4 linked regions of the Homo sapiens genome follow. The protein of the gene in region 2 purifies or fractionates together with the protein of the main gene of each other region. This does not show direct contact. Each region holds a gene or a part of one and is shown on either strand. Other genes may lie near its edges.

Region 1 (6,493 bases), on a different chromosome or scaffold from region 2:
AAGTCAAAAGATAATGCTAGGTTATGTCAATTTTTCTTTTCAACAAAACTGCTAATGTCTATTAGGAAGAAAAATGTGTTTAAAGTTTTACAGGAACGTGGAGCTCATGTTCTTCTGATATGTAGACTTTGATAAAGAAGCATACTGTAATGTTTTATGAACTGAAATTTTAATCAAAAGAGGTCATTTTAGAATAACAAGTATTATTCTTTTTTAGTAGAGGGAATGACTGTCAATATGATTTATTTGTTTTTGTGTCATCCCTACTTTGAACTGCTGTTAGCCTTACATTCTCACTATAGTCCATAATGCTTCCAGATCACCTTTTCTAAGATGCAACATGTGAGTTTAGTGAGAGTTTATATGTTGGGTTACTTAGTTGAGCTATTTATGTATAAGTAAATGAGATGACAGGAAGCTGTAACTGAGCACAAAGTACTTTAGGGAGCAGCCACACATACAGGAAGCTCTTAGAAAAGAACTTTTTTTTTTTTTTGAGACAGAGTTTCACTCTTGTTGCCCAGGCTGGAGTGCAGTAGCGCAGTCTCGGCTCACTGCAACCTCTACCTCCTGGGTTCAAGCAAGTCTCCTGTCTCAGCCTCCCAAGTAGCTGGGATTACAGGCATGTGCCACCATGCCCAGCTAATTTTGTTTTTTTTTTAGTCGAGACGGGGTTTCACCATGTTGCTCAGGCTGGTCTTGAACTCCTGACCTCAAGTGATTCACCTGCCTCGGCCTCCCAAAGTGCTGGGATTACAGGCGTGAGCCACTGCGCCCGGCCAAAAAGAACATTTTGTCAATCTGAACAGAGCACAGAACATTTTTTCAGACTGAACAGACTGTTGGACCAGCCTGTCATGATATGTTTTAGATAAAGTTTGAGTGAGTTCATTGGGATAAATGGTCCACAATCTTAAACAGAATACTGTGAGCCAATGCCTTTTGGAAGTAATGGTGGAGGATAATATGATTAAAGGGAACATGCTTGTGTTTATTTTTGTTGGTAGTATATGATTAGAAAAACTAGATAATTCCCATAAGATGAAGATCTTCCATGAACAAACTACCATCAATCATCCATCAGATTGATTTTTTTTTTTTTTTTAAGTAACACTAAAGAAGCTGTAAAGAACATTGAAGGTGGTCATTCCTTCAAAACTGTGTTTTGACCACACAAGGTGGGCATTAACAAACCAAATTTCAACTTAAGTTTGTTTGTATTATATTGGGGGTGCTGCGAGACTGGAGATTTTATAAAAGCAAGCATTTTTATTTCCATTTATAATTTCTATTCAATATTGCTAGATATATTAACATGAAGGAATGGGGAAGCTTATTTCAATCAAAGCTAAAATTTTCAGAAGTCTGTAAAAATGGAAAAACACCATTGAAAGAGGCAGAAACAGGTAAGGGGGATAGTATCTTAGAAAACCTGTTGGTTAAGGCAGCTGCATGTGATAAAAGTGGTACTTGAACTTGGTAGTGTTTCCTTAGAACCTCCTCCAAAAATATGCATTTACCAGGCTTGTTACAATTTTTTGACAGTTTTTCATCAACTGTCAAAAACTTCAACCCTTTTAAAACCTAGATATAAATGCTTACATGTAAAGAAAGGAAGCTAAGCAGTGGGTACCTGGGATCTCTCTGAACTATTTTTATAACTTCTTGTGAGTCTTAAGTATTTCAAAATAAAAGTGGTTTTAAAGTAAATTCATAGATTAAATGTATCATTATCTATATATAAACCATGATTTAAAACTTTAATTTTCTAAACATAGTATTCAACTTAGTTGAATAAATATATGATAGAAGTTAAATAGAATTTTTATTTCATTCTTAAGAAAAACTCATGTTTGTAACAAATGATATCTAAAGATCTATTTTGCCTTACCAGAAAAGAAAAAAAAAACCCTAAAACCAAAAACTCCTTTTCCCTAGGAAGTCAAAAATGCTGTGATTTAAAATATCTAATTATATTTTTTTCTTTCTATGGTAGTGGGGTTTACTTCTGAGGATAAAATATTTTGAAAAAGCTCTGTCCCTTGACATGGTAGTTCTCCCGTGCCTTGTACTTGTTCTCTCTCCATATGCACAGTGTGACAAGATGCTCACCTTTAATGAAGAAGGTGTAGCTTTTCGTTTTAAGCTGTAATTGTCTTTGTCTTGATTTGGCTATTTTTATAACTGAAATCCTGAGCAACAGAGATAATTTGGGTGGTAATGATCATCTTTTGTATATGTTCTTGATGTTAAGAAATATTTTTTGCTGCCATTCAGCTTTGTGGAATTTATGTTTACTTTTCAATATTTTCATATTTCTTAACCAGATTTTAAAGAAATTTGTTGTTAGTTACGTGAAATCAAAGGTCAGGTCAGTAAGCCCATTATCCTCAAACTTGAAGTTTCGTTGGATGTTCAAAATGCTAATTTTTGCAGAGATATAAGGATAAATTAGTTTTAGTTTGTGTTCTTAAGGGTTTGCAAAATAATTTGGCTCCCAAACTCTTGTTGGGGTGTAGTGTTTGCTAGGAGCCCAGGATACCTGCCCTGGACTTAAATTGTGATTGAAGTGGAGAGGTACTCTAGGAATTTAAAAAGACACAAAATTATTTTTTTCCAGACTAGTGTGCCATGGATTTCTGATAAGAATTAACATTCTTGAACAAAGGTATCAGAAAGGGTAACTCGAGTTGAAGGTTTGTGAATAGAAGGGGAAATGTGATAGAAGATTATTCAGAACAAAATAAGTAGACAAAATAACAAAAGACAGGAAAATAAGTCTCTTTGTATCCTTATTAATCATTTGAAATTATGCTATAATATTTTTTAAAACTCACCTGTTTGGTTCTGGGTGAAGCAGTTCCTGAAGGAGTGTTTTGTCAGAATATATTGTTAGGAGAATAGAGGGTTCTGTGGCCAAGTAAGTTTGGGAAATAGTGGGTTAGACAAAGTTGAGTTACTGTTGGCCTTTCAGACCTTTGATACGCTAATGTGCATTTTAAATCTCCAAGAAGCACCTCTATTTTATACATCATTTCCCTAATTTATTTTAATATGGATTTCTTGTTTTTGTTTTCTTGAGACGGAGTCTTGGTCTTGTCACCCAGGCTGGAGTGCAGTGGCACGATCTCGGCTCACTACAACCTCCGCCTCCCAGGTTCAAGCGATTCTCCTGCCTCAGCCTCCCAATTTACTGGGATTACAGGCACCTGCCACCACGCCCAGCTAATTTTTGTATTTTTAGTAGAGATGGGGTTTCACCATGTTGACCAGGCTGATTTTGAACTCCTGACCTCAGGTGATTCTGCCCGCCTCACCCTCCCACAGTGCTGGAATTATAGGTATGAGCCACTGTCCCCGGCCAGATTTTTTTAAAAGTAGGTATCTTGTGGGATTTATGTTCTGAGAGATACACCTAAGGAAATGCTGCCCTACAGTGTTTTTGCTAGTTCATACTCATTACAAAGGTTTCTTGTTGTTGGGTGCCCCTCTAGCCAGTGGTAGTAAAATGGGAAGAGACAGGTCAAGACTCCCTTGGACCATGGCATTGAGAGAGGGATGGCTGTCGGCATAGATATGTTGGTTATTTAGGCATTTGTGAGGGAGGCCCCTGGCTCTTCCAGCCTGTTTCCTTAGGATCCCAGTTGGCCGGGAACAGCTGTACAAGGGTCTGCTGAACTGGTGGTTTCAGCAGACTACCCAGTTCCTAAGCATCCATGAGACAGAGGGAACCAACTTGTATTTCCAGAACAATTTTCCAAACCTTTTCTGGCTGTACTTTAAAAGTGCCAAAAAGGCAATGGGTGTTTATGACACTAAAGTCACATACAAGCTAGTATGATACATACATCATAGAAAGCTTATAGTTGCTCAGTGACAAAGCAAAGGAAGTTTAATATTTTCCAGTTTTGTTCATTACCGAAGACAGTCTACGGTTCATAGTTTTCACTAAATTCTAAGCAGATTCTATATCCTAAAACATTTAAACCTCACTAGGCCTGCAATTTTGAGAGGGTTAGCTAAATATGTTTGGTATCACTTCAGAGTCTAAAACCAGATTACTAATCGTGTGTAAGGAGGCATTTTGTGTGTCTTTGCAATGTATACAATTGGATTATTTGGAACACCATTTTGAATGTGTATTTGAGAGAAAGCTCGCCTGTGGGTTTTGAGTTGTGGTGTAATGGTGAACATGTAGCCACGTGAAAGGCCGTTGGATCTTTGTTCTGATTCTTCAGTCGTCTTCTTGCAAATTCAGAGAAATGTCTTTTAATCATTTCGTTTACATATCCCAGATCCTTGGAAATCATGAAAAATAACTTGCCAGAGTTTGCATCAGCCCTCAGTAAGTCATGAACCATAGAGAAGGTCATGGGGCCATTTATTCTTTGGACCACTGGCTACTTCTGAAGTTCTGGCTTCCTTCTCTCTAGGAGGAGTCGTGTATTCAAGCTTTTAAGTTAAATGCATAAAAATGAGTTTTACTTCTCTTCTGACTTGATTTTTAATTTTATGAAATGGGAAATAATGTTTTTCCATTTTTCTGTTCATTTTGAAGTGGGAATTTGAGGTGTTTGTAATGTCATGTTACTGTTCTGAAAGATTGACAGTAAAGAAGACAAGAAATATATGTATGTAGTATGCATATTAGTTTTGTCCCACCAAGCCTATCTTTGAATGGCAAACATTTTAAAAACATCTGTTCTAGTTGCACAACTACTCTAGCTTCTTTATAAAGTAAACAATCTTAAAGTAAGCAATGTTGGCCATAATTTCAATATTCTAGCCTTGCCGAGTGTGAATATATTTTACTCAGAGACTATGTACAAATACACTAAAGTGGTGATGGTGATCAATATTGTAAAGAATTTATTCTGATAAATGAGAAACTGGATATAATGTCAAAATAGCTATTTTCTCAATAAAAATCTCAAATCTCCTGACTGCTTATGAATTCTCGATTTAATGTTATTTATTCTTTGAGGTAAATCTTTTCATCGCGAAGAATTTTTTGCTGGTTGAATGTGGTTGTTCAGGGCTGGGACTGAGCTATAGACATAGTGGGTTTTTAAAAAATGTCCATTCTTTTTTTTTTTTTTTGAGACAGAGTTTTGCTCTTATCACCCAGGCTGGAGTGCAATGGTGTGAACTCGGCTCACTGCAACCTTCGCCACCTGGGTTCAAGCAATTCTCCTGCCTTAGCCTCCCAAGTAGCTGGGATTACAGGCACCTGCCACCTTACCCGGCTAAATTTTTTTTTTTTTTTTTTGGTATTTTTTTTTTTTTTTTTAAGTAGAGACGGGGTTTCACCATGTTGGCCAGGCTGGTCTTGAACTCCTGACCTCAGGTGATCCACCCGTCTCGGTCTCCCAGAGTGCTGGGATTACAGGCGTGAGCCACCGTGCCTGGCCAGAAAATGTCCATTCTTTCTGTTATGTGTTGAGACCACTTGTGCTCTGGCCACTCCAGGCTAAGGGAGGTTAGAGGCCTGTTCTCTAGGCCACTGGTTTGTGTAGGACCTCAGATGCTCACACAACTTTGCAGGGTTATAGTTCTCTCATCCCTTCAGCTCTGTAAGTTTCTTGTAAATTATACCTTTTGCTCACCCAGATAGTATAGTGATAGTCCATTGTAATTGAATGGAAGATTTAACTGAGAAAAATAATGTAATTTTAGTTGGAGGGAAGATATTCAGGTTTTTTTACTGCTTCGTTTATGGGACAAAGTATATGGTTCTAGAGAACCCTGTCATTTATAGCTGTAGGTTAAATAAGGGCAAGTTCCCTGAGAGAATGGGTGTCTTTGCTAGTAGATTTTTTTAAAATTGAGTTGTAATTTACATATAGTAAAATGCATAGGCCTTCCAAGTAGAACTGTGTAGGTATGTAAGTACTTTTCTCACATGAGAAGCAAGCTACATCTTTGTCGATACTCCTTTCCCCAAAGAACACAAATCTTAATTACTTACGCACTTTGGGTTCCAGGTGAAAGCCCTTGGGTGGATTGAGGTGGTGAGTAATGATCACTTGCTTGCTGCAAGAGAACAGAAAAGAGGAGTTGCTGTTGTGGAATAATGGAATTATTTGCGGAAAGACAACTATTTAGAGTCACAAAGCTGCGAACCATATGACAAAGAGTTTCAAAAATGTTGGTTCTTAATTGCTCATCTCAGAGGTTTGACTTTCGTCTGAGACTATCTGGGGAACTCAGAAACTCCTGGATGTCCATACTGATCTCCTTCAGTGGACGGTAGGCTACAACACAAGGTGCTCTCTTTCCTTTGCTGCAGATAGCAGCTATTGGTGAGAAAACTCTTAAGTTTTGCCATGTTGGGATCTTGTCTTCAGTGAGTCTCCATAGCAGAAAGATCACTAAGTGCTGCACATTATGTTTGAGACAAATGTAAGAGAATGAAAAGCAAATGGTGGTGAAGAAATGTCAGGTTTTATCTTACTTAAGATCATCCTGTAGTTAAGTTCCTAGCTGTAGAACA
Region 2 (8,446 bases):
AAAAATCATTCCAGACTTTTTGAATATATAGAAAAACCTAGATCATACTAGTGTGTATTATTTTGCAACATACCTTTTAAAATCATAAATATGTTTGGAAATTCTTCCATATTAATAGCTGTAGGTATATATCATCCTTTCACATTGTTGTATTCTGCTGTATTGGAGATATATATATATCTCCAAAATATATATATATATTATTTTTTTTTTCTTCAACACCCTCCCCCTGTATTGGATAAATTAGAATTTTATTTACTCAAGTTTATTGTTGGGCTTTTAGGTCATGGCCAATTTTTTGTTTTTATAGAGTACTAAGATAAATTTTCTTATATATACATCTTTGTATAAATTCCTAAGGTTGGTATTGGTACCTTAGGATAAATTCCTGAGAGTGGTATTAGGATGTCATAGGTTATGTACTTTTTAAATCTTGTAATAGATTGCCAGATTGAACTAAAGGTTATATCATTTTATGTATCTCCTAGTAACTATAGAGTATTAGAATTTTAAAATAAGTGGGTTTCTCCCCCCATATCTTTACAAACGTATTTTTTTCATCTTTGACCACTTTATAAACAGCACATGTCAGTCTTTTGGCATTTCCTTTATTTCTAAATAAGGTTAATCTCTTAAACAAGGTTTGCTGACCATTCTGTTTTCTTCTTTTGTGAAGTAGTTGATAGTGTAATTTTCTCTATTGAAAGATACATTTGTATAATGACAAGTAAGTACATACTAATATTTTGTAGTGATAGCAGAGTATTATTTATGCTTTTATATAAAATAATTTTTAGGGGGCATTTTGGACGTTTAATTCATTGTATAGTTGCATGTTACGTTATTTGTTAGTGAGATAACTGAAAGTTTTTGTATATTTAATATGATGTTCTTTTAAATTTTTTTAAATTCCCTTTAGGGCCATTCTCTTAGTGATGGGCTGGAGGAAGTCCAAAAAGCAGAAATGAAAGCTTACATGGAATTAGTCAACAATATGCTGTTGACTGCAGAGGTAAAATACTAGATGATACGGCTTGAAAATAAGCTTTTTCTCTCATTCTCATAAAATATAATCTTTCTTATGGGTTAAAGTTATTGAGAAATGGGAAAATAGTCAAGTAATTCTAGAGTTGAGTTGGCTACCTAAATTATTTGATTATTACCTTTGAACAAGTTACCTGACATTTTCAGTTCTAGTTTTTCTGTTTATAAAAAGGAGTGATTCTTGCCTACTCATTATTTTACTTTGGCCTTTTGAAATTTGCTTAAATAATATCTGTAAAACACTTTAATGGTATTTAGACATGTATTGTGTGAATAAAAAATATTTTTATAACGTACCATCATTACATTTTTGTGGATAGCAGCTAAGAAAAACAAACCGCTACATGTGTGACTTATGAAATTAGCTTATAAAAAATTGCCTTGGCAAAAAATAACTTTCTTTATCCTTTTCCTCTTTGGTATTCTAAAGTTTAGTGACTGTTCTTTTGTTCCTAGCTGTATCTTCAGTGGTGTGATGAAGCTACAGTAGGGGAGGTGAGTGGTTCTGTAACATTTATCTTAATTAAAATTTAATGAGAAAACACTTTTGCTCAGAATCGCAAGTCCCTGCTCATAAATGAAACATTGTGGTTTATACCATTAGTGATATAGTTTTTCACTTACTTTAATTTTGCTTGCACATAACATTTTAGGGAAGCTATGTGTCATTGTTTGATATAACGGGTTGCAAAGTACATAAAAGTTTATATATTTTTAAAGGGAATGGCTTAAAATTTTAATTTTTTAGATTGCAGGATGTGTATTTTTTTCAGATTGCTCTATTTATGTTCTCTGAAAATATATTTCTTTTAGAATTCTATTTGTAAAAACGGGCATTGTTTTTAGGAAGGATCACCTTTTTTACAAAATCTTTTTACTTTAGATCACTCATGCTAGGTATGGATCTCCTTACCCTTGGCCTCTGAATCATATTTTGGCCTATCAAAAACAGTGGGAAGTCAAACGTAAGATGAAAGCTATTGGATGGGGAAAGAAGACTCTGGACCAGGTCAGTTCAGGTTGAAGTTGACAAAACCCTCAACTTTTATGCATTAAAAGAATCATTCTTTATATTGATACTCCTTTAAAAAAATATATATAAGATTTGCAAGAAAACCATTTCCTGTGATTTTCACTAACATGAAGTAATTTTATTTCTAAAAAATCATACATGCTTGATGTAAAGCAAACAATGCAATGCAGATATGTGTAAAAAAGCAATAAAACTTGCCTGAAATCTCATCACCTAGAAAATACCACCCTTAACTATTTGGAGAGCCTTCTTCTAGATGTTTCTTAGTAACATTTTCTCAAATGGGATCATTATGCCTGCTACTGTATAACCTGAGGGTTTTTTTTTTTTTTTAATTGAACAATACATTGTGGGCACCTTTTATGTAACTAAATATAGATCTGCAGCATCAGGGCTTAAAAAAAAAGCCCTGTTAAATACAGTACTTTGTCCGTCTGTCTGTCTATCTATCTGTCTATCTGTCTATCTATCTGTCTATCTATATTTTTGCTACTAAAGTAGCAAAACTTAAAAATACTTATCTTGTCCACAAGCATCATTAAGTTAATTAATGCCCGTCTTTTCCAAGGCTACCCTTAATACTAGCCAGCCATCTCACTGATGTGTGCCATTGGCTACAAGGGGGTTTCAGTAAATGAATAGGGATAGAATAAATAAAAATCTATCTCCACTAGTGGGAAAATAACTCAAATGCTTTTACTCATAGTGGGTCAATGTTGTTACCTTTATTAAGCAGATTTTTTGGTATATGCAAAGCCATTTGAATATATGGATTCAGGAAGACACTTTTGTTCTTGACAAAATCCTTATAAGTAACTTAAATGTACTTGTATTTTGAAGGACATTCACTGAGAATTTCTTCCTATTTCTTGTATACAAAGTATTATATATATATACTTATATAGAAAGTATTTCTTATAAGTATTTCTTATATAGAAAGTATTTCTTATAAGTATTTCTTATATAGAAAGTATTATATATATATGTGGTCTATGGTCTTATTAAAATATATTATAAAAGGTTAACTTAAATTTATATTTTTGTTATAAACTGTGATACAAGTTACGTTTTAGATACTTTTTATTGTTTTGCTAATTGAAATACTTTTCCTTGGGGTTCATTGCCTGTGTTAGGTCTTAGAGGATGTAGACCAGTGCTGTCAAGCTCTCTCTCAAAGACTGGGAACACAACCGTATTTCTTCAATAAGCAGTAAGAAATTTTACTTTTTTAAAGTTAATTTTCTGTACTGTTAGGTTGCAAATTTCTTTTTTTCATAAAAGAATTGCTTTTTCAAGAAAATATTTAGCTATTTTTATAATTTTTGTACTCAAATATTTTTGTGGCACTTTACTCTCAGGCACAGTGCTAGGCTCTAGGAGACTAAGATTTCTAAAATATGGTCCTTATCATTAAGAATTTCTCTTAAAGGCAGTCATGTAAATCAATCATTGTATGATAAGGTTTTAATGAGGTAGTTCAAGGTGCTATACATGGAACTACAAAATCTTAACAAAATTCTAAACTTGTACTATTAAACATGAAGGAAAGTAAGTTACTATTAATGTAACTATGGTTTTCTATATAGAATGATAGCTGGAGGATTAGAAGAGTCAATAAAACTAAATATTAAAAAATATTGTTTGATGGACAAGCACTATTATGAACTTATCTTTTAAAATGTTAATGAAAATATTTGTAAAACACAGAAATTAATATAAAGGATATAGGTTAAATATATGTGTATATATGTAAGTTGAATAATGTTTCATTAATAGATTTGCTTTTGCAGTTTTGAAAAGACTCTAATGAAGGCAAAGAATGAATTTTCCGTTGTTAAAAAATTACAATTTTAATATATCAGAATCAGCTGTCCTGTGATCCAGTGTAAGATGGGCTTAAAGCATTTTAATCTCAAAACTTTCCCTAGAAAGTCTGACCTTTTCTTGACATTTTAATAAAAATTATTTGATTTTTAGATTAATAATTTCTAAAAGGCTTTATTTGCTATTATGTGTTATATCGTCATAAGCATTCCTCTTCTATAACCATATCAAACATATTTGGGTAAAGATAATATTTGTAGTAAAAATGGCTATGATGATAGTTTGGAAATATTTAAGTTATATTAATCTATAACACAAGTAATATATACATATATAATTGATATTAAAATCTGGGTTCTGTTGATCTTTGAAGCAGAAAAATCTTCAGAATTCAAACTGTGAAATTCTGGTGGGTAAAGCTTCTACAACTCTGTTCCTGTTTCTAGTGATGTTTGCTCTACAGATTCTATTTTTCAGTCCCTAACACAAGAGAAATGTATCCAAATGTCAATATTACGTGATTTCTTTTCTTTCTAACAGAGGAATTCTTAGGAATTGAAAAGCTCAGAAGGGGTGTGTTTTATTGAAATGCATTATTCTATTTTAGTTTTGTTATGCACACTGTCTTTAGAGGAGGCCAGGAGAATAGATCTAACTTACTTTTCTTCTCAGTTAAACTCATTGTCATTGTGTTAGTAACCAGAGTTTGGCATGTGACTCAGTGGAAATATCAAGATATCATTTTTCTTCATAAGGGCACAATTACATTTACACTTGTGATGAAAACTTCTAACTTAGAACAGTTCAAACACCAAAGCCTTGCTTTTGAGGAACTATTTAATTGATATTATGATGTAGAGTTTTGACATAATTTTCCTTTGCGTGATACTTAGATAAACATTTTCCCTAAAAATAAGATTAAAGATAGAAGAGATTTGATTTTTAATTTTATTCGATCATTTAATTAATACTAAAATGCAAATAAAGTACATTTAGAAAAAAGTAACTGGTATTTCACTTCCTTGTGCCAACATTTTTCTCATTCCTTTATCTGTAGCAGGAGTCATTACTTTGTGAGATACTATGTTGAATAGAGCTGTGGCCTAAGTCAGGTATTATACTGCAAGTCAGAGGGTCTGAATTCTATTCTTGGCTCTGACATATCTCTAAGTTACTCTAATTTCTCTATGTGTATGCCAGTCCTAAAATTAGAATTAACCCCCTACAATTAGAATTAATCCCCTAAAATTAGAATTAACTTTCCTTCTAGCTCAACTACTGGGGATGTTGGGAGGACTCGTGAAAGAAACCAAATACCGTTACTTGATGAGAGAAAAGGAAAAGGGTAGTTAAGGGAGATCTCACAGAAAGAATAATAATTGGGAAAAGAGGCCAAAAAGCAAGGGGCTTGATTTACAAAACTTGGGTGACAGCCCTAAAGATAAGTGATTAGGATGTAAAGAAAAGATAACGTAGATTATTTCTAGTACTATAAAGAGATGAAAAGTTAATGGGAAAGAACAATTAGGAAACACTCAGACAAAATTAATGCTTTTGAAAGCATTAATATAGATGATACTATGAAGGTATCAGAGAGAAATAAATGTGAAATAATGAATAAGCAAAGCAAAAAATATGAGTGCCAGAAAAATCTTAAATGGAAAATGTTAGGAAAATGTTGAATTTTACTGAGTGCCAGAAAAATCTTAAATGGAAAATGTTATGAAAACGTTGAATTTTACTGTTTTTGTTTTGATATTCAAATGAAAAAATAGTAGATAACCAACAGGAATGTGGAAAGAATAATAATGTAAGAAGGCATCAAATTTCTTAGGACTTTAAAAATATATTTGTCACCCTGGAATATTTTTCTAATAAAAAGTCTATAAAGATAAATGCAATAATATATGAAACATCTTAGAGCTCATAGGAGGGGAATTGCTATCTATATTTGAATTATAATCACAAACTATTTGGTAAGCAGAAGGGTAGAAAGTTGTGTTTTCTCTTCACGTGATATAGCAAGATAATTAAAATTGGAGGTATATGAAGATCTTGACTTGATTAAATAGTTCAGTAGAAATACTGGATAAAATATGTTACTTGTCTTTTTGTTAAGTCAGGTTTATTGATGTGTAATTTACATCTAGTAAAATTGGCACTTTTATGCGTGTAGTTCTATGAATTTTAACAAAGGCATACAGTTGTGTAACTGTCACCTATCAACTAAAATATTATTTGTACTTCTTAAAAAGACTTGTTGGAATCAGTAATTTATATATGTCAGAGTCAGTGTAAGGAGTTGCTCAAATTTGGAAAAATTACAAAAAATATGCTTTAAAGGTTAGTGTGTGTGGATATATACAGTCATGCCCTGTATGGCAACCTTTCAGTCTGTGATGGACCAAATATATGATGATGGTCCCTTGAGATTGTAATATATTTTTACTTACCTTTTCTGTGTTTAGATATGTTTAAATACACAAGTATTTGTGTACCATAAATACACATTATCATTGTGTTACAGTTGCCTACAGTATTCTGTTTGGCAATGTGCTGTATAGGTTTGTAGCCTATTAGCAATAGGGTGTACCATATACTCTAGGTGTATAGCACCATCTAGGTTTGTGTAAGTAGACTCTATGATGTTCACACAGTGAGAAAATTGCCAAACAGTGCATTTCTCAGAATGTATTCCTGTTAAGCAACACACAACTGTATGTGCTTTGGTTTAATCTGTTGAATTCTACTTCTGTTGATGTTCTAAAGTAACTTGCCACAAAGTTGCTGTCTTTATGTAAAATCAGATCAGTTTTTATATGCTCATGCCCATATATAATTCAGTACCTCTGGAGTTATGTGGATATATATTTGCAACAAACCACTTCAGGGGTACTTCTGGAGCACTCTCATTTGAGCATACATTGATAGTTGAACTCTTTCAGAGCCTTCATTTATTAATAAAGGGTGCCCATCTATACTACTGGAAGTTGCATCAGAGAATATATGCACCTTTTTTAGGCTCTAGTACAAGAAGTATAGGGTAGCTGGCACTAAACAAGGATTAGGAAAATAAGTTCTAAATTGGTAAGATAAGATGTACCTCTTAAGAAATATGTTTAAGGATGTGGAAGAATTGGTGTTTGTATTATTCTCACCAAGTGCCTCAGCTCAGCTCCCCATTTATCCACTCTACATCCTTGGTTTTTTGCAGGGATCTATTCATTATTGGTTCATTCCTGTGATGATAAGATTATGGTGCTGTTGAGTCTAAGGACCCTTGAGATTTTTTTTTTTAAAACTATACTGTTGGCTACCCATTTAAACATGGCCATAGATTGCACATTTGACTTTGATTAACACTTCATGAATGTCAAAAGAGTGGAAGGCTTTCAAAGAATGTAAGTTACTACTATTGAGAAAATTAAATATTCCACACATCTTAGGATGCTTTCTTTTTTAATTCATGTATTTATTCGGCAAGTGCTACTTCAGTTCCTTAGATACTGTGCTAAGAACTGGGAATATAAAGATATATACAGCATTGCCTTTGAAGAGCTTGGAGTGTAGTGAGGGAAACAGTTAAGTGAACACAGTTATAATATGGTATGAGAAGTGTGTCACCTTTTTATTGGTTCATTCAACACAAATTTATTGCACAATTCCTGCTTTGTGCAAGGAATTGTTCTAGGTATTGGGGTTACAGCAGGAACCAAGTAGGTGAGGTCCTTTCTCTACAGGACTTTCTGGTAGAGGAGATGCACAATAAGCAAAAAAAAAATTATATGGTATTAATTATCAAATGTAGAATTAAAAAAGGACCACATGATAAGGAGTGACTACATGTCCACTTTAATTTGAGTGGTCTGAGGAGACTTTAAGATGTGCCATTTAAACCTTATTCTAAAAAATAAGGAGCCAGTGTGAAGTCAGAGGAAGAGTATTTTAGGCAGCAGGAATAGTTATAGTCAAGGTTCCCTAATTGGCTTGAGTTTGTTACGTTCAAATGCAAGAAACAAGGCCAGTTTGGGTTGTATGCTATGAATGGTAGGATATGAGGCTAAAGAGGCAGGCAGAGGCCAGATTATCAAGGCTCTGTGTGCTTAGTGTAAGGAGTTTGGCATTTTAGTATAAGTAGAACAGAAATCCATTAGAATATTTTGTGCTTGGAGTTGGTATGATCTGCTGACATTAGTCATTCTGACCATGGTATGGAGAATGAGTAGAAGCAGTAAGACACTTTAGGAGGCTATCTCAGTGGTCTAGGTGACAGATGATGGTAGGTTACACTGTGAAATCATAATGAAGAATAAGTGGTGGCATTCAGGGCATATTTTGGAGGTAGTGTCTCACCAGACTTGCTAATGGATATAGGAGGGTGAAAGAAAGAACTCAAGAGTAGCCCCTAAATTTTTGGCCTGAACAGCTGGTTGGATAGTGGTGCCTTTTATTTTGGGAAGTTTGGGGGACAAGCAGGTTTGGGATACTGTAAATTACTGCTATTGAGAAAATAAAGTATCCCACACATCTTAGTCAAGATGCTCC
Region 3 (8,446 bases), on a different chromosome or scaffold from region 2:
TTTCCATTAAGAATGTTTCTTAGAATGGCAGATGTTTAAGGCTGAGCGGTGGAGTGATGACGGAAGGGCATGGAGAGGATGGGGCACAGGACCCCCACAGGGACTGAACAAGTGCATCACCCTACATACTTGTGGCAGCTTGTCCTGTTTCCCCATGTACACAAAGAAAATATTTATAGAATATAACACAAAAGAAACTGAGAAGGGACTCTAAATGTGTTACTATAAAATATCAACAAAACACAAAAGAAGGCAGTAATAGAATAAATGAGGGTCAAAAAAGCTACAAGACATACAGGAAACAAATAGCAAAATGGCAGTAGTAATACATTCCTTATCAGCAATTACTTCAAATGCAAATAGGTTAAACTTTGTTTTTTTTTTTTTGTTTTTTTTTGAGATAGAGTCTTGCTCTGTCACCCAAGCTGGAGTGCAGTGGCCCAATCTCGGCTCACTGCAACCTCTGCCTCCTGGGTTCAAGCAATTCTTCCTGGGATTACAGGCATGTGCCACAACACCCAGCTGGTTTTTGTATTTTTTTTTTTTTTTTAGTAGAGACAGGGTTTCACCATGTTGGCCAGGCTGGTGTCAAACTCCTGACCTCAGGTGATCTGCCTACCTCAGCCTCCCAAAGTGCTGGGAATACAGGTGTAAGCCACCACACCCAGCCAAATTTTCCTATCAAAAGGCATAGATTGGCAGAGTGGATTTTTAAAATATGATACAACTAAGTGCTGTCTACAAAAGACTCACTTTAGATCTAAAGACACAAAGAAGTTGAAAATGAAAGGATGTAAAAAAAACCCATACAAATAGTAAACAAAAGAGAGATGAGGTAACTATACTAATATCAGACAAAATAGACTATAAGTCAAAAACGATTAGAAGAGATTAAAAAGTACATTATGTATTAATAAAAGGATAAATTCATCAATAATATGTAACAGTTATAAACATATATGCACCAAATATCAGAGCTTCAAAATATATGAAGCAAACACTGGCAGAATTGAAGGGAGAAATAGATATCTCTATAATAATATTTGGAGACTTCAAAACACCACTTTCAGTAAGAGACAGAACCACTAGACAGAAGATAAATGAGGAAACAGGACTTCAACAACACCGTAAGCCAATTATACCTGGCAGACATACACAGAACACTCCATACCACAATAAAGAAGAGATATTTTTATCAAGTGCACATGAAACATTCCCCAAGATAGGCCACAAAACAAGTTTGTAGCCACAAAATAAGCTTTAATATATTCAAAAAGGTTGAAATCATATAAAAAATATTTTCTGATCACATAGAATGAAACCAGAAATCAATAATAGAAAACTAAAAAAACTCACAAATATGTGAAAATTAAACAGCCAATGGGGCCAGGCATGGTGGCTCACACCTGTAATCACAGCACTTTGGGAAGCTAAGGCAGGCAGATCACTTGAGGCCAGAAGTTTGAGACCAGCCTGGCCAACATGGCAAAACCCCATCTCTACTAAAAATACAAAACTTAGCCGGGCATGTTGGCGCACGCTTGTAATCCCAGCTACCTGGGAGGCTGAGGCACGAGAAATCCTTGAACCTGGGAGGTGGAGGTTGTAGTGAGCTGAATTTGTGCCACTGCACTCCAGCATGGGTGACAGAGCAAGACTCTGTCTCAAACAAACAAACAAAAAACCAATGGGTCAAAAGAGAAATCATGAGGTAAATTAGGAGGTAACATGAGAAAGGCAGAAACACACACACACACACACACACACGCACACACACACGCGCGTGCACACACACACACACACCTTACACCGCGCTAAAACCTAAGGGATGCAGCAAAAACAATGCTGAGAGGGAAAATTATAGTTGCAAATGCATATATTAAAAAAATCTTAAATCAGTAACCTAACATTACACCTTAAGGAATGAGAAAAGGAAAAAGTAAAGACCAGAGAGCTTGAAGAGCAAACTAAACCCAAAGCTCACAGAAGGAAGGATATAATCAAGATTAGAGTGAAGACAAATGAAATAGAGAATCGAAAAACAGTGGAGAAAAATCAAGAAAACCAAAGTTGATTCTTTGATAACATCAATAAAACTGACAAAACTAGCTAGACTGACAAAGAAAAAGAAGACTCAAATTACTAGTATCAGGAATAAAAGTAGGACATTACCATGAACTTTACAGAAATAAAAAGGAATATAAGAGAATACTATGAACATTTGTATACCAATAAATTGGATAACGTAAATAAAATGAAAACATTCCTAAAAACACAATCTACCAAAACGGAACTGTGAAGAAATAGAAAATCTGACCAATAACTAGTAAGATTAAATCAGTAATCAAAAATGTCCCAAGAAAGAAAAGCTCAGGACCAGATAGCTTTGCTGGTTAATTCTACCATATATTTAAAGAAGAACTAATATAGCTTTGCTGGTTAATTCTACCATACATTTAAAGAAGAACTAATACCAATCCTTCTCAAACTTACAAAAAAAACTGAAGACGAGAGAACACTTCATAACTAATTCTATGAGGTCAGCTTTACCCTGATACCAAAATCAGACAAAGTCACTTCAAGAAAAGAAAACCACTTTGGGAGACAGAGGCAGAAGAGTCACTTGATGCCAGGAATTCAAGACCACACTTGGGCAATACAGCAAGACCTTGTCTCTGTGAAAAAAGAAAAATGGAAAAGAACACTACAGACCAATACTCTTTATGAATATTGATGGAAAAATTAATAAAATCCAGCAAATCAAATTCAGCAGCATATTAAAAGAAGTATACATTGATTTATTCCTGGAATACAAGGATGGTTTAACATGTACAAATCAAAAATCAATCAATGAAATATACCACATTAATAGAATGAAGGAAAAAATACATGGCCATTTCAGTTGACATAGAAAAAGCATTTGATAAATGTCATCATTCTTTCTTGATATAAATATTCAATTAATTAGGTCTAGAAGATGCTATGGTTTGAATGTGTCAACAAGCATGTATTGGAAACCTAATCCTCAAAGTAACAGTACTGAGAGATAGAACCTAATGGGAGGTATGTAGGTCATGAGGGCTCTACTGTCTTGAAGGGATTAATGCCAATTATAAAAGGGCTTGAAGTTTCAAATTTGTTTTCTTCCTCTCTTGCTCCCTCTCATTCTCTCTAGCCCTTCTGCCTTCCACCATGGGATAACACAGCAAGAAGACCCTCACCAGATGCTAGCTCCCTGATCTTGGACTTCCAAAACTCTAGAAGCATGAGCCTATAAATTTCTGCTCATTATAAATTCCCCAGTTTCAAGTGTTCTGTTATAGCAGCACAAAATGGACTAATACAGAAGGAAATTTCATCAACATGATAAAGGCCATAGAGTTGGCACTCTATCTCTGCAGTTTCCATATCCAGGGATTAAATCAACAGCAGATATAAAATATTTGGGGAAAAGCAATACAAAATAACAATACAACCAAAAAAATACAAGTTTTAAAAATACAGTACAACAACGATTTACATAGCATTTACATTGTGTTAGGTATTATAAGTAACCTAGAGATAATTTAAAATATATGGAAGGATGTGTATAGGTGCAAATATTATAGCACTTTATATAAGGGATTTGAACATCCTCAGATTATTTTGAGGGGATTCCTGGAACCATCCCACCTCATATATTGAAGGACATTTTTATATGAAAAGCCCACAGCTAACATCATACCTTAACGGTGAAAGACCGAAAGCTTCTTAAGATCAGGAACAAGATAAAGATGTCTGCTCTTACCACTTCTATTCAACATAGTACTAGCAGTCCTAACTAGAGCAATTAGGCAAAAAAAGGAAAAGGGAATAAAAGGCATCCAAATTGTAAAGGAAGAAGTAAAATTTTCTCTGTTCACAGATGACATGATTTTATATATAGAAAACCCTAAAATCTTTTTCTTTAAAGTTAGAGCTAATTAAAAGCATGCAGCAAGGTTGCAAGATATAAAATCAACACACAAAAATATTTCATCTCTACATACTAACAATGAACAATCCAAAAATTAAGAAAACAACTCAATTTATAATAGCATTGAAAAGAATAAAATACTTAGGAAAAAATTTAATCAAGAAGGCAAAAATCTTGTACACTGAAAGCCACAAAACATTGCTGCAAGCACTACCCAGAGCAATCTACAGATTCGATGCAATCCCTATCAAAATCTTAAGTGTTTTTTGCAGAAATAGAAAAACCCACCCCAAAACTCATATAGAATTTCAAGATACCTGTATAGCCAACAACAAAAATCTTAAAAAAAAAAAAAAACAACAACAGGGTTGGAGGATTCATATTTCCTGCTTTCCAAACTTAGTGTAAAAATATACAATAATGAAAACAATGTGGTACTATCATAAAGACACACATATGGGTCACTGGCATAGAATAAGAGAGTCTAGAATTAAACCCTATTTTTAATTAAAAGAGTGGAAAAAAAGAAAGTGAAAAAACAGTTCACATAAATGGAAGAAATATTTGCAATGCATATATCTCATAAGGGATTAGTATCCTTACTCCATAAAGAACTCCTACAACTGAACAGCAAAAGACACAGAGAACCCAATTCAAAAATAGGCAAAGAACTTGAATAGACATTTCTCTAAAGAAAATATACAACTAGCCATCAAGCACACAAAAAAATGCTCATCAGGCCAGGTGCAGTGGCTCACACCTGTAATCCCAGCACTTTGGGAGGCTAAGGGGAGCAGATGACCTGAGGTCACCTAAGGTCAGGGGTTCGAGACCAGCCTGGCCAACATGGAGAAACCCTGTCTCTACTAAAAATACAAAAATTAGTCGGGCATGGTGGTGCGTGCCTGTAATCCCAACTACTTGGGAGGCTGAGGCAGGAGAATTGCTTGAACCCAGGAGGTGGAAGTTGCAGTTAGCCGAGATGGCGCCACTGCACTCCAGTCTGGGAAACAGAGCGAGACTTGGTCTCAAATTAAAAAAAAAAAAAAAATGCTCATCATTAGTCATTAAGGAAATTCAAATAAAAACCACAATGAGATATCACTTCGTACTCATTAGGATAGCTATATATTAATATAACAAATGTTGGTGAGGATATGGAGAAATTCAAACTCTTTGGCATTAGTGGTGAAAATGTAAAATAGTGCAGCCACTGTGGAAAAAAACAGTATGGCAGGTCCTCAAAAATCTAAACATAGAATTATCCTGTGATGGCCGGCACGGTGGCTCACACCTGTAATCCCAGCACTTTGGGAGGCAGAGGCAGGCAGATCATGCAGTCAGGAGATCGAGACCATCCTGACTAACATGGTGAAACACAGTCTCTACTAAAAATACAAAAATTAGCTGGGTGTGATGGCGGGTACCTGTAATCCCAGCTACTTGGGAGGCTGAGGCAGGAGAATCGCTTCAACCCGGACGGTAGAGGTTGCAGTGAGCCAAGATCATGCCACTGCACTCCAGCCTGGGCGACAGTGAGACTCCGTCTCAAAAAAAAAAAAAAGAATTACCGTGTGATCCAGAAATTCTACTTCTAGGTATGTACCCTAGAAAACAAAAAGCAGGAACTCAGTCGAGGGTGGTGGCTCACACCTGTCATCCCAGCACTTTGGGAGGCTGAGGTGGGCAGATCGCTTGGGGTCAGAAGCTCAAGACCAGCATGGCCAACATGGCGAAGCCCCGTCTCTACTAAAAATACAAAAAGCTAGCCAGGCGTGGTGGCACTCGCCTGTAGTGCCAGCTACTCAGGGGGCTGAGGCACGAGAATCACTTGAACCCAGGAGGCGGAGGTTGCACTAAGCCAAGATCACACCACTGTACTCCAGCCTGGGCAACAAAGTGAGACTCTGTCTCAAATAAATAAATAAATAAATAAATAAATGCAGGAACTCAAATGGATACTTGCACACTGGTTTTCATAGCAGCACTATTCAAAATAGCCAAAAGATGGAAATAGTGCAAATGTTCACCAAAAGACGAATGAATTATCAAAATGTGGTATATACCTATGTACAATGGAATATTACTCAGCCCTAAAAAGGAAGGAAATTATGATACGTGGATGTTACAACATGGACGAACCTTGAAAACATTATGCTAAGTGCAATAAACAAGGCACAAACGGACAAATATTATATGATTCCAATTATATGAAGTACTTAGAGGGGTCAAATTCATAGAGACAGAAAATAGAATACAGATTACCAGGAGGTGTGGGCAGAAGGAGAAAGGGGAGTTATTGTTTAACGGGTACAAAATTTCTGTTTGGGATGATAAAGAAGTTCTGGAAATGGCCAGTGGTGATGACTACACAACACTGTGAGTGTATTTAGTATCACTGAAGTGTACACTGAAAAAATGGGTAAGAAGGTAAATGTTATGTTTCCATATATTTTCTCACAAAAAATGTAAATGGATAAATAAACTCTGGTTTATCCATACAACGAATATTATTCAGTGCTAAAAAGAAATGAAGGCTGGGCGCGGTGGCTCACGCCTGTCATCCCAGCACTTTGGGAGGCCAAGGCAGGTGAATCGTTTAACCTGGGAGGCGGAGGTTGCAGTGAGCCGAGAGTGCGCCACTGCACTCCAGCCCAGGCAACAGTGAGACTCTGTCTCAAAGAAAAAACCAAAAACAAAAACAAAAACAGTGTCATCATGTTGAACACAGTGGGGCCCCCTCTTGGGTTCACTCCTTGAGGCACAGACTCAACAGACTGTTTTACTTTGTCATGTCTCTTTCCAGTTGCCACTTCCTCCTGGCTGGTCTTTCTGTACCCCAGAATGTGGACCCACCCCAAAAGCAGCCATGCTCCGTGGGGCCCTGTGCAGACCCTACAGACTGAGGCCCAGGTGAGAACAGCCCGTCTCAGTACGCTCGCCCTGTGCGGGGCTGGGGACCACGGTGATGGGCAGATCCATCCTCCAGGGGCTCACAGTGTAGGGGTGCGGGCTGGCATTCACCAAGCAAACCCACAAACGTATCCTTAACCCCAGAGATACCTGCCCTCCAGAGAACAATAGGGGGGCCATCCTGGTTCACAGGGCCCCTGATGATGCCCACATTGAGGCCATCAGCCACTCCATCATCTGGCTGAAGCCACTCACCGTGGGCCGCGCAGGGAGGCAGATGGCTGGGGGCTGGAAAGGCTGGCTCAGCCCTCACCTGCACTGAGTCCCACAGCAGCCTATGCGGACTTGCCAGCAGCCCCATCATGGTGAGGAAGCTGAGCACAGGGACGTCAAGTGACCTGCCAAGGCCACATGGACAGGCCCAGCTGGGCAGTCTGGGTCCAGCGCCTGCAGCCCTCTCGTTAAAGAACTAAGATGAATTAGCCAAAATTCACAGAGCAATCCCATATGTCTGGCACTCTGTGAGCCCTACGTCACCTACAACCTTCATCCTTCCAACAGCTTTGCAACATAAGGACAACCACCAGCCCCATTTTCAGGTAGGGAAACTAAGGCACAGTGAGAAGATAAGGTACCTGCCCAAGACTGCAACCAGATATGAAGTGACAGATCAAGATCCAGGCCCAGGCACAGCCATGTTGAGGACCACCTCTTGATATTCAGACGTTCTGCCTCTCTAATTAACATGGAAATTCACTGTAATCAGCTACAGCAGTCTACTCCCTGCCAGTCCAAAAGCACGCCCAAGGCTGTCCTCTCCAGCATTGCCCACTTGGCTGAGCACCCAGTAGGTGCTCACTAAAGAGTTCTGCAGGCCGGACGCGGTGGCTCACGCCTATAATCCCAGCACTTTGGGAGGCCGAGGCAGATGGATCATGAGGTCAGGAGTTCAAGACCAGCCTGGGCAACATGGTGAAACCCCATCTCTACTAAAAATACAAAAAAAATTAGCTGGTCATGCTGGCACACGCCTGTATTCCCAGCTACTCAGAAGGCTGAGCCAGCTACTCAGGAGGCTAAGGCAGAAGAATTCCTTGAACCCAGGAGGCAGAGGTTGCAGTGAGCCAAGATTGCACCACTGCACTCCAGCTTGGGTGACAGAATGAGACTCTGTCTCAAAAAAAAAAAAAAAAAAAGAGTTCTGCAATGTATGGTCCAAGACCCAGGGGCAAGGGCTGTAGGTGGACCGTGGCCAGCATCCTGTAGTGGCTTCCTCCTGCCCTGCAAGCCGCTAACCAGGCAGAGCCTCCGCTGCTGCAGAGCCATGAGTCACCATGAGCCGTGAGTCAGCTGGCACAGGCCGCACGGTCCGGAGGCTGAAGCCAGGCTCTGCGGCTTGGGGGTCCTGTGCTTCCTGTGGTTGCGAGTTGTGCACACAAACAGGCAGCACTTGGAAGCCAGAAAAGGCACAAGAAGGGAAACCATCTCAGTGCCAGCTCCCGATAAACAAGTCCCTGAACTGTTTTTACAGGACAAAGGAAGATGGCTCGCTCTGGCACAGACCTGGCAAGCCTTCAC
Region 4 (8,446 bases), on a different chromosome or scaffold from region 2:
CATAGATCCCAGGACCCCTGAGGTTCATTCCTCACTGCTGACCTCCCTCAGGACACCCAACCGGGGCTTCTAGTCCCTCAGGGGCCTGGTGCATTCCCACAGGGTCCACTCTGAAATGGGGGGTGCTGTCCAGTCGTGTGCTGGTAAATTTCTAACTGGCTCTGCCCTTCACCTCCCTCAAAGGGCCTGGTTTGTAGCACTGGCCAGTTTCTATGGTGGATATACCATTGTAGCCAATTCCAAACTGCTGTCATGAAGTCAACCAGCACATGTTTCCTGAAAATTTAAAAATGAGCTCTTAGCCAGTTTCAGCCACCATTTGGATGCCCAGATCTTTTTGTTCAGCCTGTGTTCCCTGAAGTGCTGGCTTCAGGAAGTTCTCTGAAGTGTTCCCTCTTGAGTGCTGGCTCCGTGTCCCCACCTATGGAGAAAGATGTTCCACGTTGCTCCTGCTGTCACTTCGCACCCAGCCTGGTGTCCTGTTTCCACCCTCAGCATGTGGCTAAGTGCTTACTGGGGACTTGGGGCTTTAGATGTTTCTCCTCATTCTCCCATACACTGACTCACTCAGGGTCTTAGTTGCTACAGCCGCAAAAAAGGAGCAAATGGGCAAACTTGGGAAGGTTTCTCCCTTTTACAATGTGGGATTTTTGTATTTACCTACAATCAAACGGATCTGCTGCCTTCTTAGAATAATTTTCTTAATTTCCTCCCTTTCTTTGTCATTCTCACGCAAATTATTCCACGAACTTGAGATCAAAACTCCTTTTCTTCAACTCTGTGCTCTCGTTCATTCCCTGCAGTCAGGGCAGCCACCAGACGAGCCTTTCATCCCACCTCCCACGCAGGCCGTGGTGATGTTTCCTTGCTCACAAACTTTCAGCGTCTCCTCGGGATGGTTGGACCTCTCCCTTTGCCTGACTTCCAAGCTTCCTTCTGTGCTGGCTTCATCCAAGTCCTTCCACCCCACGCCTTCCAAAGTGAACCTATGGCGGCAGGCGCACGGTCTCTTCCTGTCTGTGCCTCTTCCCCGGTGCCCTGCCCTAGGCTATGAAGCTTCTGCCTTCTGCAGACATCGCTGCCGTCCCGCCCATGGGATGGAGCTTCTCCTGTGTCTAAGTCTGCGCCTGCCTTAGGGAACCCATCCCTCTCTTGGCTGCTTCCGGCCACTGGAATCCCTCCTTGTGCTGTTCTCATTGACTTCCTGTCTGGGCTGCTTCTCTTTGTTTTTGGTGTTCTCTCCCTTTTTATTTGTAACAGCTTTATTGAGATGTGATTCACATGCTGTACAATACATCCATTTAAGGCATGTGATTTAATAGTTTTTAGTGTATTCACAGGTATGTGTGACCATTGCCACAATCATTTTTAGAACATTTTCATCACCCCCACCCCCCACCCTCCCCACCAAATCCTACTTACCCTGTAGCTATCAGTCCCCACCCCGGTCCCTGCATTTCCCCAAGCCCAAGGCAGTCACGAATCTACTTTTGTGTCTAGAGATTTGCCTGTTGTGGAATACGCCACACAGTGTGGCCTTTTGGGTCTGACTCCTTTCACTTAGCGTAGTGCTTTCAAGGTTTCTCCATGTTATAATGTGTCAGTAGTTCATTCCCTTTTATGGCTGAATAATACTCCATTGTATAGATATACTTCATTTTACTTATCCATTCATTGGTTGATGAACATTTGGGTCCTTTCCATTTTTTGGCTATTACAGATAATGCTGATGTGAACACATGTTTTCATTTGTCTTTGGTGTACAATGAGAAGTGGAATTGCCATATCAAGTGGTAACTCTCCATATCCTCGCAAATACTTATTATAATTTGACTTTAAAAATTTATTTATTTATTTAGAAACAGAGCCTCACCTGTTGTCCAGGCTGGAGTGCAGTGGCACAGTCATAGCTCGCTGTAACCATGACTTCCTGGGCTCAAGCAATCCTTTTGCCTCAGCCTCCCAAGAAGCTAGGACTGTAGGCATGTGGCACCACACCTGGCTAATTAAAAAAAAATTTTTGTTTTTTAGAGAAAGGGCCTCACTGTGTTGCCCAGGCTGGTCTCAAACTCCTGGTCTCAAGTGATCCTTTTGCCTCGGCCCTCCAAAATGCTAAGATTACAGATGCGAGCCACTATGGCTGACCCTTACACGTTGACCTTTTAATTATAGCCATCCTCGTGGGTGTGATGTGGTACCTTATTGTGGTTTAAACCCGTGTTTCTCTAGAGACTAATGATGTTGAGCATCTTTTCCTGTGCTTATTGACCATTTGTATATCTTCTTTGGAAAAATTTCTATTTAGATCCTTTGCCCATTTTTAAGTAGGATTATTTTTCATTTTATTATTCAATTCTGGAAGGTGTTTATATGTTTTAGATAAAAGTTCCTTATCAGGTATATGATTTGTACATATTTTCTCCCATTCTGTGGGTTGTCTTTTCAGTTGCCCTATGGTGTCATTTGGTACTCAAAACTTTAAAATTTTGAAAAAGTCCAATTATTTATTTATTTCTTTCATTGCTCATGCTTTTGGTGTCATCTCTAAGAACGTATTGCCAAAGCCAAGGTCATAATGATTTAGCCCTCTGTTTTCTAATAAGAGTTTTATAGTTTTAGCTCTTAATGTTTAGGTCTCGGATCTGTTTTGTATTAATTCTTGTATATGGTGTAAGGTAGGTGTGCAACTATATTATTTTGCAAGGGATATCCAGTTGTCCCAGCATCATTGGTTGAAGAGACCGCTCTTTCCCCACTGAACCATCTTGGCACCCTTGTTGAAATCAACTGACCATAGAGATAAAGGTTTCTTTATGGCCTCCTTATTCCCTTCCATTGATATGTTTGGTCTTCTCTTGTCATATGTCATTAACTAGTTATTTGATTGTATATATCTTAAATACTACAGGGACTCTATTATTATTATTATTATTACAATCTTTTGTTACTAAGGAAATGTTCATGGTAAAAAAATTAAGATGCAAAAGTTCCAAAAGTGAAAATCCTGCCCCAGCTGCTCCTGTCCCCACTTTCAGGACCTCATCCTCTGAGTACTTTGCTAAGCAGTTTTGTAGATTTCTCCTTGGAGCAGATCTGTATATGTGTCTTATGTGCATGCATGTGAAATCCAAATGCAGTTCACACTTGCGGATATGTGTATATGCATATATTCAAATTCAGCAACATTTATATTTGTATGTCTGCATTTTTTTTTGCAAAATTGAGATGTGCAAAAAATTCTATGACTTTTTAAACAATCAGCAGTATATCTCATGTGTTTTCCGTGACAGTGTATGTGTATTCTACCTTGTTCTTTCTTAATGGTTCCATAAAATTCTATAGGATGTATATGCCGAAATTTTCTCAGTCAGTTCTCTATCTGTTGGATGTTTATGTGATTTCCTTTTCTTTTTTCCCTATTTCCTCCGGTGTCACAGTGAGTGTCCTTCCACATGCCTCTGTGTACATGGGGGAGTAGTTTTCTCAGTGAGATATTCTGGAAGTGGAGTTGCTGATCATGTCTTTTGTCTTACAGTAATTTTTAATGTCTTTCCCTCCGCTGTGTTTTATGATGCCTTGCACATATTAGGCACTTAATAAATATTTACTAAAGTGAACTCTTAAGGATTTTTATCCTGGATTGATCCCCAGCTTGCTGTTTCATCTCAGTAAACTGTTTTATGACACCCTTAGGCCTATTTCACATCCTCTAAATGAATGAGAGTTTTGGTTATCCAGTCTTCATTAGGGGAACTGAGGTGAAATTAGTCAAGCAGTATTTGATTATCTACTGTATGTGTGGCACTGGAGGTGTACAGAGATGAGTGAGATTCAGGCTTAGCCCTCAAGGTATTTAAAAACCATCAGGATAGGCAGGCAGGAGGTGTAGTACTTCTCTGAGAAGCACATGTGTGTTGTCAGGGGGCTCAGAGGAAGGGAAAAGGTGATACTGGCACACCTGGGAGATGGTGCAGACGTGGCTCCAGATACCACAGTACAGTGGACATCAAAATAAAGCAAATCATGAACTTTTTGGTTTCCTAGTGTATATAAGAGTTGTGTTTACACTATATTGTAGTCTCAAGTGTACACTAACATTATGCCTAAAAAGTGTATATACCTTAATTAGAAATACTTTATTGGCAAAATATGCTAATGATCATCTGAGCCTTTAGTGAGTCATAATCTTTTTGCTGGTGGGGGGTCTTGCCTCCTTGTTGATGGCTGCTGACTGATCAGGATGGTGGTTGGCTGTGGCAGTTTTGTAAAATAAGACAACAATGAAGTTTGCCACATCGATCAACTCTTCCTTTCACAAAAGATTTCTCTGTAGCATACGATGCTGTTTGATAGCATTTAACCCATAGTGGAGCTCCTTTCAAGATCGGAGTCAGTTCTCTAAAACCCTGCTGCTACTCTATCAACTAAGTTTATGATCCTATTCTAAATCCTTTGTTGTCATTTCAGCAGTGTTCACAGCATCTTCACCAGGAGCAGATTCCATCTCAAGAAACCACTTTCTTTCCTCATCCATAAGAAGCAACTCCTCATCTGTTCAAATTTGATCCTGAGATTGCAGCAATTCAGTCACATCCTCAGGCTCCACTTCTAATTCTACTTCTCTTGCTGTTTCCACAACATCTGCAGTGACTTCTCCATTGAAGTCTTGAACCCCTCAGAGTCATCCATGAGGGTTGGAATCTACTTCTTTTAGACTCCTATTAATATTGATTTTTTGACCTCTTCCCATGAATCATGAATGTTCTTAATGGCATCAGAATAGTGAGTCCTTTCCTTGGAGTTCTCAGTTTACTTTTCCCAGGTCCATCAGAGGAGTCACTATGTATGGCAGCTCTAAGCTTATAAATGAATTTCTTAAATAATAAGACTTGAAAGTAAAAATTACTCCTTGATCCATGGGCTACAGAATGGATGCTGTGTTAGGAGGCATGAAAATAACATTCATCTTGTACATCTCCATCAGAGCTTTTGGGTGACCAGGTGCATTGTCAAGGAGCAGTAATATTTTGAATGGATTCTTTTTTGCTGAGCAGTAGGTCTCAACAGTGGGCTTAAAGTATTCAGTAAAACATGTTGTAAACAGATGTTCTGTCATCTAGACTCTGTTGTTCCATTTCTAGAGCACTGGCAGAGTAGATTGAATATCATTCTTAAAGGCCCTAGAGTTTTCAGAAGGCTAAATGAACATTGGCTTCCATTAAAAGTCACCAACTGCATTACCCCCTAACAAGAGAGTCAGCCTGTCCTTTGAAGGTTTGAAGCCAGGCATTGATTTCTCCCCTCTAGCTATGAAAGTCTTAGATGGCATCTTTTCCCAGTAGAAGACTGTTCTGTTTAGTATTGCTACCTTCATCAATGATCTTACATAGATCTTCTGGATAACTTGCTGCAGCCTCTCCATCAGCACTTGCTGCTTCACCTTGCACTTTTATGTTATGGAGATGGTGTCTTTACTTAAGTCTTATGAACCAACCTTGGCTCACTTCAGTCTTTTCTTCTGCAGCTTCCTCACCTCTCTCAGCCTTGACTGAATTGAAAAGAGAGAGAGCCTTGGGCTTGATTAGGCTTTTGCTTAAGGGAATACGGTGGCTGGTTTGATCTTCTATCCAGACCACTAAAACTTTTTCCATATCAGCAGTGAGTCCGTTTCACTTTCTTACCATTCATGTGTTCACAGGAGTAGCACATGTAACTTCTTTCAACAACTTTTCCTAACTTGGCTAACTGTTAGGTGCAACAGGCCTAGCTCTCGGCCTATCTTAGCTTTCGACATGCCTTCCTCACTAAGCTTAATCATTTGTAGTTTTTAATTTAAAGTGAGAGACATGGGACTTTTCATTTGAACACTTAGAGGCCATTGCAGGGTTATTAATTGGCCTAATTTTGTTGTGTCTCAGGGGATAGAAAGGCCCAAGGAGAGGGAGAGAGACAGGGGTCGGGGAATGGCTCATTGCTGGAGCCATCAGAACACAACAGCATTTATCGGTTAAGTTCGCCGTCTTACATGGACAATGTTCTCAGTGTCCCAAAACAATTACAAGAGTAACATGAAATGTCACTGATCACAGATCACTGTAACAGATATAACAATGAAAAAGCTTCAAGTATCATGAGAATTATCAAAACATGACTGAGAGACACAAAGTACATGCTGTTGGAAAGACAGCACCAGTAGACTTGCCTGATGCAGGCTTGCCACAGACCTTCAACTTGTAAAAAAAAAAATGTGTTATCTGCAAAGTGGAATAAAGAGAAATGTGATAGAAGGAGGTACCTGTGCTTCACTTGCATGCTGTCGAGGAGCAGCCTTCCCTGGAGAAGGGGACATTGAGATACCTCCAAAGAAAGGATATGATTTGGATGGGTGGAGATGTCCCAGAGAGGGAGGTGGTGGGCTGGAGGTGGTTCAGAGGGAAGAGCATGCCTGAATTCAGAAGAGGTGAGAAAAGTGAGACATCAGGTTCCCCTGAGGACTGGGTGTGTGGAGGGAAGTGGTGGGGGTAAAGCCGCAAAGCCAGCAGGGGACATATATTGGTAGGCTTGGGAATCCGGATGGGCTCAGCATGGACCTGGTAGGCACTGGGCCACCACGAGAGGAGTTTTAGTAGAATTGCTTTGTTGGAGTTGGTCTTGAGGAAGCAGCGCATTCAGTAAATCTGGGGCCTGAATAAAGAGGAGGCTTTGCTTCCAGGCACTTCTGTGACATAACTTTTTCTTTTCCCTCTTTTCTGCTTCCTTAGCTGTCTGAAAACGTGGTGAACCGCATGAAGGAGCCCAGCTCTCCACCCCCTGCTCCCACATCTTCTACCTTTGGCCTTCAAGATGGCAACTTGAGAGCCCCTCACAAAGGTATGGGGATTGTGACAGTTCTGTGGAGTGTGGAGAGACAGTGAAAGGAGTGATGGGTGCTCACCCGAGCCCACCTGATGGCGCACAGGGCTCAGGTTGGCTTCTGGATGACGTTAAGCAGCTCTGTCTGGTAAGGGCTTTCCGGAAGAGCATGGCTTTCTGGGAGTGATGGGGCTGTCATCAGAGCTGCCGGGATTCGGGTCGGACCACCTTCCCTCTGTGCCACTTTCTCCATGTGGGAATTGAGGCAGAAGGACCTGAGTTGACAGCTCAGGAAAGAAGTTGCCTTTAAGGCTCCTCAGAGGCGGCATAGCCATGACTCAGCTTCAGCCACTCTAGCCTAACTCCCAAGTCAAAGAATGATGTGGATTCACGTGAACAGGGCCAAGTATAGGAGAATTCCGTCAGTGATTTAGGCGCCTACCGCAGCAGCCCTCACCTGAGCCTCAGGCCGAGAGCTCCTGTCCTGGCCCTTGGAATGGTTCCCTCTGGGCTTCTAGGAGGGGTCCTAGGAGTTCCTCTTCCTGGCCCACTGTGAAGCTGGTGCTCAAGCCGGGCTCAAAGCTGATTTGTTCCCTACTGTATTGTGCGTGTTGCAAATGAAGAAATTTGTGCTTTCCCCAAATAACGACTTGTAGCAAACACAAGGAAATAAAATTTTAAGGAAAAAAGTTCTAAGGCATACAAATGTTAAAATATTACAAAATAAAAAAGTCCTTGGAGCAACTGCTCAAAACATACTTGTTTTTGAGAACTTGGGTCTGTCTATCAGATTCCGTAACTCAATTAAAAAAAAAAAAAGATTGGCTGGAGGCAGCATGCCACCACGGAAGGACCGACTGTTCAGGTGGATAACCACCCACTAGATTGTTCTTCTTGGGCCTGGTCTCGCGTTACAGTTGCCTTTTCTACTCATCTTCCCTGTTGGGTTGAAAGAGTTTAGAATATGAGAGCTGTATCCTGCCCACTTAGTGTTTACTGAAGGCCACCCAGAACCAAGTCCTGTGCCCTGTGCCAAGACACAGTGATAGGTGGGCAGGGACCCTCTCTCATGGCACACCTGGCTCTGGTTATGGAGACTGATGAGTTATGTGTCATGTTGTGATGCAACACTGGAATCTGTACCAGGCTCACGGGAGAAGAGGGACTGTGAAAGGCAGGAGGAATGGTGGTGGGTGGGCACTGCGAATGGGCAGATTGCAGGAGCGGAGGTCCGGCGACAGGGTGCATCCCAGCCTGCTCGGGGGCCTAGAAGCATTGCCCAGGAGCCAGTCAGCACCTGGATTTGGACCCACCCCAAGATCTTTCTGAATATCTACCACTGTAGGGGATGTGTGAGATTCCCGAAAACCCTCCAAGAAGCCCTTGTCCTTTACTAATAGGGCTCACTTACTCCCCACGCTGGCTCTAACTAACTGATGAGAAGGGCTTAAGAGGAGTCTAACTTGACCCAATGCACTTTAACAAACTGGATTAACTCGAAAGAGGGAGAAAGTGATGATAAAAGCGAAAATTGCCATAATATATAATACTACACATCAGTTTCAGCTTTAGAAGAAATAAGAAGCATTTGCTT

Evidence for each region.
Region 1: the proteins of MTX2 (region 2) and MTX3 purify together in Homo sapiens (affinity purification with mass spectrometry; 2 studies listed by BioGRID and IntAct, with this or other methods). This does not show direct contact.
Region 3: the proteins of MTX2 (region 2) and CARD19 purify together in Homo sapiens (co-immunoprecipitation; 3 studies listed by BioGRID and IntAct, with this or other methods). This does not show direct contact.
Region 4: the proteins of MTX2 (region 2) and CHCHD6 purify together in Homo sapiens (co-immunoprecipitation; 4 studies listed by BioGRID and IntAct, with this or other methods). This does not show direct contact.

The regions. Positions count from the first base shown.
Region 1 is NC_000005.10:79,975,177-79,981,669, reverse strand, and holds the end of MTX3 (metaxin-3), read left to right. Parts: 3' UTR 1-4,954; downstream 4,955-6,493.
Region 2 is NC_000002.12:176,327,374-176,335,819, forward strand, and holds part of MTX2 (metaxin-2), read left to right. Parts: intron 1-919; coding exon 920-1,012; intron 1,013-1,500; coding exon 1,501-1,539; intron 1,540-1,927; coding exon 1,928-2,053; intron 2,054-3,210; coding exon 3,211-3,287; intron 3,288-8,446. UniProt on the Homo sapiens protein: Involved in transport of proteins into the mitochondrion.
Region 3 is NC_000009.12:93,098,519-93,106,964, reverse strand, and holds part of CARD19 (caspase recruitment domain-containing protein 19), read right to left. Parts: intron 1-8,446. UniProt on the Homo sapiens protein: Plays a role in inhibiting the effects of BCL10-induced activation of NF-kappa-B. May inhibit the phosphorylation of BCL10 in a CARD-dependent manner.
Region 4 is NC_000003.12:126,720,317-126,728,762, forward strand, and holds part of CHCHD6 (MICOS complex subunit MIC25), read left to right. Parts: intron 1-6,761; coding exon 6,762-6,870; intron 6,871-8,446. UniProt on the Homo sapiens protein: Component of the MICOS complex, a large protein complex of the mitochondrial inner membrane that plays crucial roles in the maintenance of crista junctions, inner membrane architecture, and formation of contact sites to the outer membrane.